4 linked regions of the Homo sapiens genome follow. The protein of the gene in region 2 interacts with the protein of the main gene of each other region in a pairwise test. Each region holds a gene or a part of one and is shown on either strand. Other genes may lie near its edges.

Region 1 (4,191 bases), on a different chromosome or scaffold from region 2:
GAATGCCTAGGAAAACATTTTAAAATGCTAGAGCTTTGTAAAATGGTAAAGCTTTATGGCAATCATCTTCGGAAAAATGAGTTCTACTGTGTATTATGCTACAGCTAAATAACTAACAAAGGTTTTTCTAGAAAAAACAGTTAATATCTTTTTGTTTGTACAAGTTCTCTTTGATCTGCATGACGGCATAACATAGCAAGAATTTGAATCAATTAACTTTCTGGGAAGTATGGAATATAAAATATTATTGCTTTTTGCTAATTAAAATGATCAGATTTCAAGGGATCACAAACAACTACTATTTAATTCTGGCATTTTCATGTTTTTCAGATTCTATATAAATTGGGGCTTTTTCAAAAGTGTTTTAGGATGTTAAATACCTTTTTGATGAAACAGGAAAAAGCAAACTTTATTTTAAAAGTATAAATCTTCCCCCCTTTTGGATCCTTTCCAACTACTCCCTGACTTGTAAACAGTAAAAATATGGACTAAATAAATAAATATATAAACCCCACAATACTTTAAACATATAATTTAAACATGTTAACTAACATTAATGCTTCTAAAGGGCTTATCCTTTAGATACGGTCAAATGACTAAAATCATTTAATCTCAGTAATTAAAATAAGATATTAAATGATTTAGAACTAAGATCAACCAATTTTGAAAACAAAATTTAAATCCTATGTAATTTGTAAAATAGTTTGGATTTGATTTTTCCCTTAATTGTCAATGTTGAGAGTGAAAATATGGCATTTCATTTTGACTTTCGGAATGTTCAGAATAAAGTTTACAATTTCTCAGATTCCATGTAATCCCTGAATTCATCCTAAAGTTACTGGACCAACGTAAGTTTCTTCTTAATGAAATACCAAGTGGGCACTTTCTTTTCAGAATTCACCAGCTATAAAATAGGGAGACCTCTGCATTTTAGATAAACTGTTTTCAGGCTAAATCTCTAATTATTGGGACTAGAATTTTCAAATATGGGAGTGAGACTGCAAAAAAAACACAGTGAAGAAGAAAAGAAAATAGCTCTATTTGTCTTTTTCTAAATACTGTCATTCAATTAGCCCTGGGCAGGCCGGAAAGTCTGACAATGTCTGTGGCAACCCTGCAGTTTACTCCTTGGTTTGGTTTTCTTTGGTGGTCGTTCTGTTTCTCCTAGACACCTTGCTAGCGTTTCCCCCTACAGCATTTCTCTGGCGCATTCTTGCCCCTTTCACTGGGTACTTTCGAGATTTCTGGACCGGGCCCCACTGCCGTAAGAACCACAACAAACCATAAGAGGTGAGTGAGAGGAGATTGCCAGCCTACCAGCCTGGGGAACCTGAATCTGGGGATCACGACTCTGTGACTGTAGTTGCACAAAATGGAAGGTACCCATTTTGTGTAGAGTGTGCCCTGTACAAACATTTACCTAGAGCTGACTAAGTGCCTGATACTGTCCTGCCCTGGGATAGAGCGAAGGAAAAGAAACAATCCCTTTCCCTAACATCCCCAGGATCTCCTGGTGTGCAGGCACTGGCGCTCCCGGAATCGGTCCCGCGGTCCCACCCACCTCTGCCTGGTGATGAGGTTGATGTAGTGTCGCAGCGCCGAGTAGTATCTGGCCATGTCCTCCGCTGGTGCGTCCTCGCCCGGGTTGTCCGGCTTGGAGGGGTACGCCTCGGCCAGCGCACCCAGGCACACGAGCAGGGACAGGGCGAGGGTCAGTCCGGACAGCCCCAGTCGCTTGTTACCTAGCATCTGCAGGCACAGAAGGCTCAACGGACGGGCTTGGGGATTCAGAGCACCCACGCGCAGCACCTCCCTCCTCTGCCCCCCGCGCTCCTCCTCCTGCTACCACACGCGACCCCCAATCCGCTCTCGTCCCAGTCCCGCAGAGAGAACCCAGGAGTGGCTAGCACCACCTTGCGGGCTCCGGGCGCCGTCCGGTCGGGACCTGCCCCTCTGCTCCACCTGAAAACTTCGCGCAACTTCGTTCGAAGTCTCAGGGACCAAGAAGCGCGCGGCGAGAGTGCAAGGTGGGGGCCCCGCCAGTTTAGCATTCAAAACCGAATTGGAAGTTCTTCCTGCTGGGTCACTTTTCTCCCTTCTTGCCCAAACTCTTGTCTGGGAAGAAAAGTTTCTTCTCTGTTACTTCTGGTCTGCCTAGCTTCAGGGGATCAACGCTGACAGCAGAGATCACCTCGGGGTGACGACTGCGGTGGGGAAGGGGAAAGAGAATTGCTCCCTGGGCCAGAATTGCTCCAAAGAGATTTGGAGCCCAAGAATCCAGGGAGGTGGCAGGGCGCGGGGCTCTAGAGCTCCAGGGATTCCTCACTCGATGGCGCTGCCGGGGAAACCTTCCTACCGCGCACCGCTTCCTGGGCCTCAAGGCGGCGACCCGCAGGGAGACCGCCAGCTGCCTTGGGATAGCGGTCCCGGGTTCTCCCTCCATATCTGCTAAAAGGTAACTCAGAAGAACCGCCCAGCGGGAAGGGCCCGGGAGAAGGGCCGTGGACAATCAGAGGGGAGCAGAGGAACAAGTGGAATTTAGCCGCCAAGAGGGCTGGTCCGCGTCGGGGCGCGGAGCCGGCATAGTCCGCTGGGGAGTGGAGCGCGATCATCCCAGGGCCCCAGGGCTCCACAGAGCGGGAGGCTGCGTCTCTAGCAAGTTCGCGGGCGCCCCGTTCGCTCCCACCCCTAGACAGACGGGTCGTAGCACTCACGGTGGCTGGCGCGCGGGCGTGGCTGGGCGGCAAGTACTATGCTGTCGGGCGAGCGTCTCCGAGGGGTGAGAGCCAGCGGATGGGGTGCAGAGAGCGGGTCGCGACAGGGCTTTTATGGAGCTTCCTCGCCGCGGCAGGAGGGGCCTCGGGCAGTCACGCTTGGGTGACTCCCACCCGCCACTTCCCGCCCCTGAGTGGCGGGGGGAGGGGGCTGGAACCGCAGCCGCACGAGTGTCGACTTAGGGAGCCACCCACACCCCAACCCTCCCGCCCCAGGCACTGCCTGAAGAAGCGGGGCCTGGGACCGCGTGAGCGAGGCAGCGCACTCCGAGCGCGCTGGACAACACCAAAGCCCAAGTATCTGCCCTCGGGCAGTGCCCGATCCCTGCTTTCCTTCTTTCCTTCTTTCCTTCACGCCCCGTCTAGTCCTGCCAGAGATAGGAGCAGCCCAGACGATTCTTGTCTCCTGCCAACAGGACTACCAACCCACTGGGTGCCGGAGTAGGAAGCACCTGAATCCTCTTTGTGGTGGGGCATCTCCACGACTAGCGCGGCATCCTCGCCGGGCACAACTGCGCGCTGTTGGAGTGAGGCAACTGGGCGCACAGATTTTTCCTGTACTTAGAACAAGTCGGAGGCAGCTGCCGGAAGTCTCCGGCTAGAGGGTCCCAAAGCTGCGCTCCCCACCCCACCCCCGCCCGTGGTTTCAGGGGCTTCTGCCCCTTCTCTCAGCTGGTTTTTCTAGATCAGCCTTCCTCAAGTACTCGCTCAGACGCAGCGAGCCAGGCTCGGTCGAGACATGAGTGTGGCGACTCAAAATTCCCCAGAGGGGGAACACGGTAAACCTATTCCCCCAGTTTGCTGAAAAAGAGCCACGCTTCCAGCTTCTAGAGACTCTTTTAAGCTCAATTTTAAAAATATATATTTTTTCTTTTTTGGTCCAAAGTGACGGTGGTTAAATGAACAACAGTTTCTGTCTTATTTACTAACCCTTGTATAGTCCTATGTACGTTCAATTAACGTTGAGAATGTGGGTTCTGATTAAGATGAAACATGTTAAAAACGATGAACATTAATTTGCTCATCGCGTTAAACCTGTTGAATGAATATGCAAGATACAGAAACTATTATTACAGGATCAAGATTTTATGCAGTGGACTGAGATCTGAAAGTTCCGTGAATGAATGCTCCTGTATCTTTCTAAATAAAATGGCATTTTATTTCTAAATGAAATATAAGTCTGAATCTTTCTAAATAAAAAGGCATGTTGGGAAATTAAAGCATTAAGTTCCATGTTATTTTAATGCTAAAAGGACAAGTGATTCTGTTAAACTGACACTTAGTTTTTGTGCTGTTCCAACAGCATTGAATTAAATATCAAAAACCGTGAAGCAAACAATCCTTTGCATGTATGTGTTTGTGTGTTTGTGGGATCAAACTATAATTTTGGAGACCAACATCCCTTTCACTTGGCAAC
Region 2 (2,216 bases):
TTCTTGTCCCCTTCACAAAGGCAAAGGGAAGCTTTTAAAACCTAGGTCACATCGTGCTGGTCCCAGCGCTGGCTTCCACTGCTCAAGGTAAAGCCCAAACTCATTCCCAAAACTGACTTGTTCATTCAGTCATCAAATGTCACTGAGTACCTGCCACGTGCCAGGCTCCAGCACTTACATTTGAGAGCCTAGGGGACCGGTCATAGACAAACACATTAGGAAGAGGCCCAGCCTGTCAGAGGGCTGTGAGTTCAATGGAACCAGGCAGTGCAGAGAAGTGTGAAGGGCCCTGCTGAGCCATGGTTCTATTTTACACAAGGCGGGCAGGGAAGGCTGCGCTCTGGGTGACGCTGGAGCAGTGACCAATCCGAAGGAGATGAGGGATTGTGAGGGTGACCAACGTCTGCTGTTCCCATGACTTGGGACGGGGGCTACCCAGGCCATGAGACTTTCAGTGTTAAAACTGGGAAGGTCCTGGGCAAACTAGGACCAGTTGGTCCCCCTAGTTCTGGGCAGAGGAAACTCCAAGTACACAGGCCCTTGGCTGCAGCATGCTGGATGGGTGCCAGTAAGAGGCCAGAGTGGCTGGAACAGGGGGAGAGGGTGAGAGCTGAGGGCAGAGAGTGAGCGAGGCCAGGTCCTAAAGGGCTTTGTGGGCCACAGAGAGGACTCTAGCTCTTCTCCCAGTGAGACGGGAGCCGCGGAGGGTTCTGAGCGGAGGAGGGAAGTGGGCAGCCTTAAGTGCTGACAGGACCCTTCTGCCTGTGCTGTGAGCAGCCCCATCAGGCAGGGGTGGAGGCAGGCGGCCCCTCAAGGGGACCCTGGCAGTGTTCCAGGGTGGTGGCAGAGGAGCGGCTGGGAAGGGGTAGGGTGGGATTCCCGACCTCCTCTCCACCCCATCTCCTTGTGCTCCAGCTGCCTGGGCCTCCCTGTAGTTCCTCCAAACCACCAGCTCTCCCCAACCTCAGGGCCTCTGCAATCGCCAATCTCCTCTGCCAGAAACGCTTCCCTGCAGCCCTGCCCTGCTAAGCTCATACTAAAAGGGTTACTGGGACCGTCTCGGGTGGTGAAAGGGCCGGAGTAAGAGGAAGGGGAGAGGGTGGGGTTTGGACAGATGTCGGGAAATACAGAGAGGTCCCCCAGAGATTGTGGGACAATGAGGGAGCGAGGCCCTGGTGCATGCTCTGCAGCACTAGCAATGCTCCTCCCACCCTTTTCCTAGGCAGTGCCTCTCACTGCCCAGGCCTTCTTCCAGAAGCCCACCCACGCAGGTTAGCGCTCTCAGAGGGCAGGAAGCAGTGCTCCCCTAGACAGTAAAGAAGGCTGCCCGCTTCACAATGGACCGAGCTCCAGCCCGCCTCCCTTGGGTGAGACCACGTTTTGGCGGGGGCGGGGAATGCTTTTCCTAATGCCCACCAAGATGCCTGATGTGGTAACAGGGCTCCTCCCATCTCAACTTCCACTGCAACCCAATGTACAGAGTCGGCACTCAATACATGCTTTTTTTAAAAAATAGAGACACGGTCTTCTCTGTCACCAGGCTGGAATGCCGTCGCACAATCACGGCTCACTATAGCCTCAAGCAATCTGCCCTCCTCAGCCTCGAGTGGCTGGGACTATTGGCGTGCACCACCACACGTGGCACATGCACTCTTACCTCACTCTCACCTTGGCTCAACCCTCACCCCAACTTTGGAGATAAAGAAACAGAGACTCCAACAGGGATGAGTTGGCCCCAGGTCTTCCAGCCAGCAGGGGCGCCAAGCCTCCCCGAAGCCTCCCCTGGGCCCTACCTGCACGGTGGAAGTCGTCCTTGCTGTAGGTGAAGTCCTTCAAGAAGGTGATACACTCTGTCTCGTGGTTGTAGCGCCTGGCTGTCTCTAGCAGCATGATCTAAGGGCGGCAGCGGGAGGGGGAGCTTGAGCCCTGTGACCCTTCAGCTGCTAGTCCCTCCCCTCCTGGCCCAAATGGGGGTCTAATCTCACCAGGATTATCCCTTGTCCCCTTCCCCCCTGTTCTCTCAGCCACACCAGCGTGCAGCCATCACGTGAGACAGCCCGAGCTCTTTCTCCACTTCAGGCTTCCGCACATGCTGCATCCCCATCTCCTTAGGATACTCTTTCCCCAGGTGAGCACAAGGTTTGGGGCACGGGGTTTGATCTGCTTTGTTCTTTGCCCCATATGCCAACACTTGGAATAGAGCCTGGCATACAGCA
Region 3 (2,477 bases), on a different chromosome or scaffold from region 2:
CACACACACTCCAGCCAAGTTAAATACATTTTTATGTAAGATTCTAAATCCTGTGCATACTTATTTGTATACATATTTGATTTTTTTCTGTAGAATATGTACCTAGAAGTGGAATTCCTGGCTCGAAGAATGTATTTTAAATATTAGTGATATTCCAGGCTGATATTCAAAATGCCCATACAAATTTGGTTTTCAGTAACTGAATGCATGTACCCGTTACTCCATATCCTTGACATAATAGATACTATAAAACTGGTAACATTTTGTCAGTCTGTGGGGTAAAAAATGTTAATCCTAAAATGTTTAATTGGAATTTTATGAAAATAGTCATCAACCACCATCTTTATATATTTACCAGCCATTTACTGTTTTCTTTTCTATAAATTGCTTTCATATTCCTAGGCCCATTTGCCTATGGGTTTTGTCTCTTTCTTACTCATTTGTAGGACCTCTATATATTCTAGATGTTAATAGTTCATCTAATATATTGCAACTATTTTCTTCAGTCTATTGCTTATCAGATTTTTTATGTTTTGTCATATTAAAATGAAGGATATTTACATAATAAAATTTGTTAGTTTTTTTATTTATGGCTTCTGAATTTCTTTTTTTTGAGACGGAGTCTTGCTCTGTTGCCCAGGCTGGAGTGCAGTGGTGTGATCTTGGCTCACTGCAACCTCCGCCTTCTGGGTTCAAATATTCTCCTGCTTCAGCCTCCCAGGTAGCTGTGATTACAGGCATCCGCCACCATGCCCAACTAATTTTTGTGTTTTTAGTAGAGACGGGGTTTCACCATGTTGACCAGGCTGGTCTCAAACTCCTGACCTCAGGTGATCTGCCCGCCTTGGCCTCCCAAAGTGCTGGGAATTACAGGTATGAGCCACCACACTCAGCCTGCTTCTGAGTTTTATGTCTAGTTTTCTATAGCTCAAGATTAAAAATAAAAACTCTTACCTTATACCATGCATAAATCAAAGAGCTAAACATAAAAATTAATGCTATAACTAACTACATTAGAAGAAAATGCAGTTGCCTTATTAGGCTTTTTTGATTTACCTATTTTCCTGGAATATCAGTTTGTCTTTAAATAGCTAAGAATCTGACTTATATGCTGTCAATACACACAGTTAGTAATACAGCATGAAAATCCTAACATGCTTTTCTATACTTTAGCCGTGATCATTTTCATTTGAAGTCCTAAATTACAAACTGATTTAAAAGCTATATATATATATATATATATATATATATATATATATGCCACATCCATGAAACCTTCCTTAATCAAATCTCAAGCTTCACTTTTCTCCCTTCAAGCTCCCTGAATACAACATTCTTCCTATGAGATAATTGTAGTCTACTATCTATTACAGTAAATTTCCAATGCATTTTATCTCACTGATTAGATTATAAACTCAACGTGGGGATCGTGTCTTGTTTTTATATCCTATATTGATTGCCAAAGATAATGATTTGTTTTGTATAAAAGTGAATGAATAAAGTAACACATTTGCTTTATTTCAGCTTCTTTGCCCAAAATGCAGTGCCAAGTTGGGTTCCTTCAACTGGTATGGTGAACAGTGCTCTTGTGGTAGGTGGATAACACCTGCTTTTCAAATACATAAGAATAGAGTGGATGAAATGAAAATATTGCCTGTTTTGGGATCACAAACAGGAAAAATATGAACATGATATTTTATAGCTTGGGAAGAAACTTGCAGATGATATGTGCTGCCTTTGCTTCTTATCATTCATGGCAGATTGTTTGTGCTTTCAACATTTCATTTGAAATGGGAGAAGATAAAATCACTTGATGTAACCTGGAAACTATGCTTTACATGGCAATCAAAGCCTTTTGATCATGTACATTTTATTTGATATTAAAATCTTTTATAACCAGATACTGTCTGTGTTTCATATATTTTTAAAAGTTTTGATTGTTGGAATGTTATATGATCTTAAGGTCTGTATAGACAAAATTATGTACAAAAATTTGAAACTATTATATTTAAATGGGTATTCTTTTATTTCCAGACACATAAAGCAGATTTGTTTGGACATATTTTGGAATTATTTCACTTTCTTTCTTTTAAGGGACATTAGTAAACCCATACATGTCTGGATTTTTTTCTTGGAAATGGAAAGGCCATTAGTAAAACGCTGATTAAAAGGCAATTTTCCTATTACTGTTCAGTAATCCCAATTATCTATATTTTTAGAAAAGTGTTTGAGATCCCTTTTGAAGTGATCTACATAAAGAAATACATAAATGTTAGATGTGTTTCTAATGATGAAGAAAACAAATGTAGAGTTACTATATATCAAGTCATTTTGTAGCCCAATATGTGAGTATTGGAAAAGGTAATACGTCCAGATTAGTTTTTTAACCTGATGTATAGAAACTAGAATTATTTTACTCATTATTAATAATTACAATTGGACCTAATTAGATATTTGAACATTTACAAGAATCAGAA
Region 4 (3,500 bases), on a different chromosome or scaffold from region 2:
CTGGAATGGTTTTAGTGTCCACATTCATCCAAGGCCCTCACAGCCTTTTATAGCTCGCTTCCTCACTATGGGATTAAGTGGAACATCTTTTCTGATCACCATAAAAATGCCCCTCATAGCCTTTTATAGCTCCCCGAAGGATGGGTTTTCCCATCGGAATATACATTTTCACTGGGCTTTATTAGCTGGGTGGAACTATTATGCCCATTTTATATGGGGGGGAACTAAGGCCCATAGAGAGGAGGGGTGGTGCCGCTAGTCCTACAGCACCAAGAATGTCTCCTCCTCTACCTTAACTTAACACCTCCCCACACAGTGACCTCACCTCCGCGATGGAGTCAGGGGCACCAGAGCCAAGAACAGGTACCATTCCACCCCAACCACCCCAATCCCACTCTTCAGGAAGGGGAAGCCCCTCAGGGGCTGACACTCACTGTGGCATCTTCAGAACAGGAGGCGATCTCAAAATCATCAAAAGGGTTCCACTTGACATCCAAAACGTTGCCTCTGTGCCCGCAGACTTTTGGGTAGTGGGGGTCCAACTTCCCTGTCTGCAAGACAGTGCCCAGGAGGGTTGGGGAGGAGGTGGATTCCACATTAGCATCTGGACAGTCACATAGTCAGTTAGCAACCAGTCAACAGGAAAACATAAGGGACAGAGCTGGGTGTGAATCTAGGCCTTACTTCTTATTCCCTGTGGGATCCTGGGGGAGTTACTTCACTTCTCTGAGCTCTGGTGTCCTCCTCAGTAAAAGGGAGCAATCACAGGTATTTCACAGGTTGGTGTGAGGATCATGGGAGAGGAGGTATGGCACAGTGCCTAGCACATGGCAGATGTTCAATAAAAGGGCATTTCCCCTCACACACTGCTGGTAGGCATGTAAAATGGTGCAGCTCTTTTGGAAAATAGTCTGGCAGTTCCTCAAAAGGTTAACCGGTTCCCACATGACCCAGCAATTCCACTCCTAGGTCTATCTCCATGGAAAATGAAAAGATAAGTCCGCAAGAAACTGTTTCACCTAATCCCAGCACTTTGGGAGGCCAAGGTGGGTGGATCACCTGAGGTCAGGAGTTCGAGACCAGCCTGGCCAACATGGTGAAACCCTGTCTCTACTAAAAATACAAAAATTAGCCGGGCGTGGTAGCATGCACCTGTAATCCCAGCTACTCAGGAGGCTGAGGTAGAACACTTGAACCTGGGAGGTGGAGGTTGCAGTGAGCTCTGATTGCGCCATTGCACTCCAGCCTGGGTGACAAGAGTGAAACTATGTCTCAAAAAAAAAAAAAAAGAAACTGGTTCACCAATGTTCACAACAATATTCTTCATAATATCAGAAAGTGGAAACAACCCAAATGCCCATCAAGTGAAGAATGGACATACAAAATGCAGTATATTCATGCAGCAGAATACTACTGTCCCTAAAAAGAGGAATGAAGTACTGGTCCCTGCTACAGCATGGATTAACCTAGAAAACACTAGAAGAAGAGGCCAGGCACAAAAGGCCACACGTTGTGTGATTCCACTTAGATGATGTTCCAGATGTGGTTTCATTGCCTGAGCACATTAATGCATCCCCCTGGTACCTGGTATCTGGAACCCTAAGTAATGCATATGAAAAATGCAGAACGGGCTGGGCGCGGTGGCTCACGACTGTAATCCCAGCACTTTGGGGGGCCGAGGCGGGTGGATCACGAGGTCAGGAGATCGAGACCATCCTGGCCAACATGGTGAAACCCTGTCTCTACTAAAATACAAAAAATTAGCCCGGCGTGGTGGTGCACGCCTGTAGTCCCAGCTACTCGGGAGGCTGAGGCAGTAGAATCGCTTGAACCCAGGAGGCAGAGGTTGCAGTGAGCCAAGATCATGCCACTGCACTACAGCCTGGCGACAGAGCAAGATTCTGTCTCAAAAAAAAAAAAAAAAAGAAAGAAAAATGCAGAACGATACATTCATGGAGACAGAAGGCAAGATTCTGGTTGCCTCAGGCTTGGGAGAAGGGGCAATAGGGGGTGACTGCTAATGAGTGAGGGGTGTCTTTTTGGAGTGACAAAATGATTTTGAAATTAGGTGGTGGTGACAGTTTATTCACAGTATATTCACAACCTTGTGAATATACTAAGATCCACTGAACTATACACCTTAAAACGGTGAATTTTCCAACATGGCAACAGGACAAAACCCCGTCTCTACAAAAAATCAAAAAATTAGGCCTGGCATGGTGGCTCACGGCTGTAATCCCAGCACTTTGGGAGGCCAAGATGGGTGGATCACCTGATGTCAGGAGTTTGAGACCAGCCTGGTCAATATGGTGAAACCCCACCTCTACTAAAAATACAAAATTAGCCGGGCGTGGTGGCACATGCCTGTAATCCAAGCTACTTGGGAGACTGAGGCAGGAGAATCACTCGAACCCAGGAGGTGGAGGTTGCGGTGAGCTGAGATTGTGCCACTGCGTTCCAGCCTGGGCAATAGAGTGAGACTCCGTCTCAAAAATAAATAAATAAATAAATAGCCAGGCATGGTGTCGCACACCTGTAGTTCCAGCTACTTGGGAGGCTGAGGTGGGAGGATTGCTTGAGCCTGGGAGGTCGAGGCTGCAGTCAGCTATGATTGTGCCACTGCACTCCAGCCTGGGCAACAGAATGGGACCCTGTCTCAAACAAAAAACAAAACACGGTGAATTTTCTGGTATGTGAATTCTACCTCAATTACATAGAAAGGGCATTTCCCTCATTTTCCCCTTTCCTAATGAGAATTCCTGTATAGGTGCTGGGAGGGACATACAGGTCCCCCAGCCCATGCCACACAGCCCTGAAGCTATTTCCAACTCCACCAAGAGACTTGGATTTCTTGGGGTCATAGAGAAACCACACCAGTTCAGTCACAGAACCTTGGACTGGCAGTGACCAATCTGCTCATTTTGCACATCACATTGCATGGCCCTGGCAGAACAGGGACCAGGACCCAGGCCCTCGACCTCCCACATCCACCATCTAGTTCCAGGTTCTTGAGCCACCCACCAGAATGCTCCCCCAGCCATTTTTATATCTAAGTGAAAGAGACAGCTGAGAAGAAAACTGGCCAACATCCATCCATCCCACAAATATTCCCGAGGTGCCCAGGGGACAGGTGCTGTTGGAGGGGCTGATTGCAAGGTGAACACTCAACATAGTCCTTGACTTTGCAGAATCAATAGTCTTGGGATTTTTTCTAGAGGGACTTTCAAGAACAGGGTGGACTCAGGGAACACCCAACCTTCTCTTCTTCCATCACCTCCCCATCTGTGTAGAGACCACTGTACTTGTTTTTTTTTTTTTTAAGAGACAGGGTCTCACTCTGTTGTCCAGGCTGGAGTGCAGTGGTGCAATCATGATTCACTGTAGCCTCGAACTCGGGGTAAGACAATCTTCCCACCTCACCCTCCCAAGTTCCAGGCTAAGAACTACAGGCATGTGTCACCAAGCTCAGCTAATTTTTAAAATTATTTGTAGAGATGGGG

Evidence for each region. The genes of interacting proteins can lie anywhere in the genome.
Region 1: the proteins of NR1H2 (region 2) and NPY interact in a two-hybrid assay, tested with the Homo sapiens proteins (3 studies listed by BioGRID and IntAct).
Region 3: the proteins of NR1H2 (region 2) and DUSP12 interact in a two-hybrid assay, tested with the Homo sapiens proteins (one large-scale study listed by BioGRID and IntAct).
Region 4: the proteins of NR1H2 (region 2) and CORO2A interact in binary tests that used the Homo sapiens proteins (3 or more experiments, as listed by UniProt).

What each region holds. Positions count from the first base shown.
Region 1 is NC_000007.14:24,282,799-24,286,989, reverse strand, and holds the start of NPY (pro-neuropeptide Y preproprotein), read right to left. Parts: upstream 2,801-4,191; 5' UTR 2,715-2,800; intron 1,750-2,714; coding exon 1,562-1,749; intron 1-1,561. UniProt on the Homo sapiens protein: NPY is implicated in the control of feeding and in secretion of gonadotrophin-release hormone.
Region 2 is NC_000019.10:50,379,457-50,381,672, reverse strand, and holds part of NR1H2 (oxysterols receptor LXR-beta), read right to left. Parts: intron 1,894-2,216; coding exon 1,794-1,893; intron 1-1,793. UniProt on the Homo sapiens protein: Nuclear receptor that exhibits a ligand-dependent transcriptional activation activity. Binds preferentially to double-stranded oligonucleotide direct repeats having the consensus half-site sequence 5'-AGGTCA-3' and 4-nt spacing (DR-4).
Region 3 is NC_000001.11:161,755,262-161,757,738, forward strand, and holds the end of DUSP12 (dual specificity protein phosphatase 12), read left to right. Parts: intron 1-1,524; coding exon 1,525-1,686; 3' UTR 1,687-1,977; downstream 1,978-2,477. UniProt on the Homo sapiens protein: Dual specificity phosphatase; can dephosphorylate both phosphotyrosine and phosphoserine or phosphothreonine residues. Can dephosphorylate glucokinase (in vitro).
Region 4 is NC_000009.12:98,137,138-98,140,637, forward strand, and holds part of CORO2A (coronin-2A), read right to left. Parts: intron 552-3,500; coding exon 435-551; intron 1-434.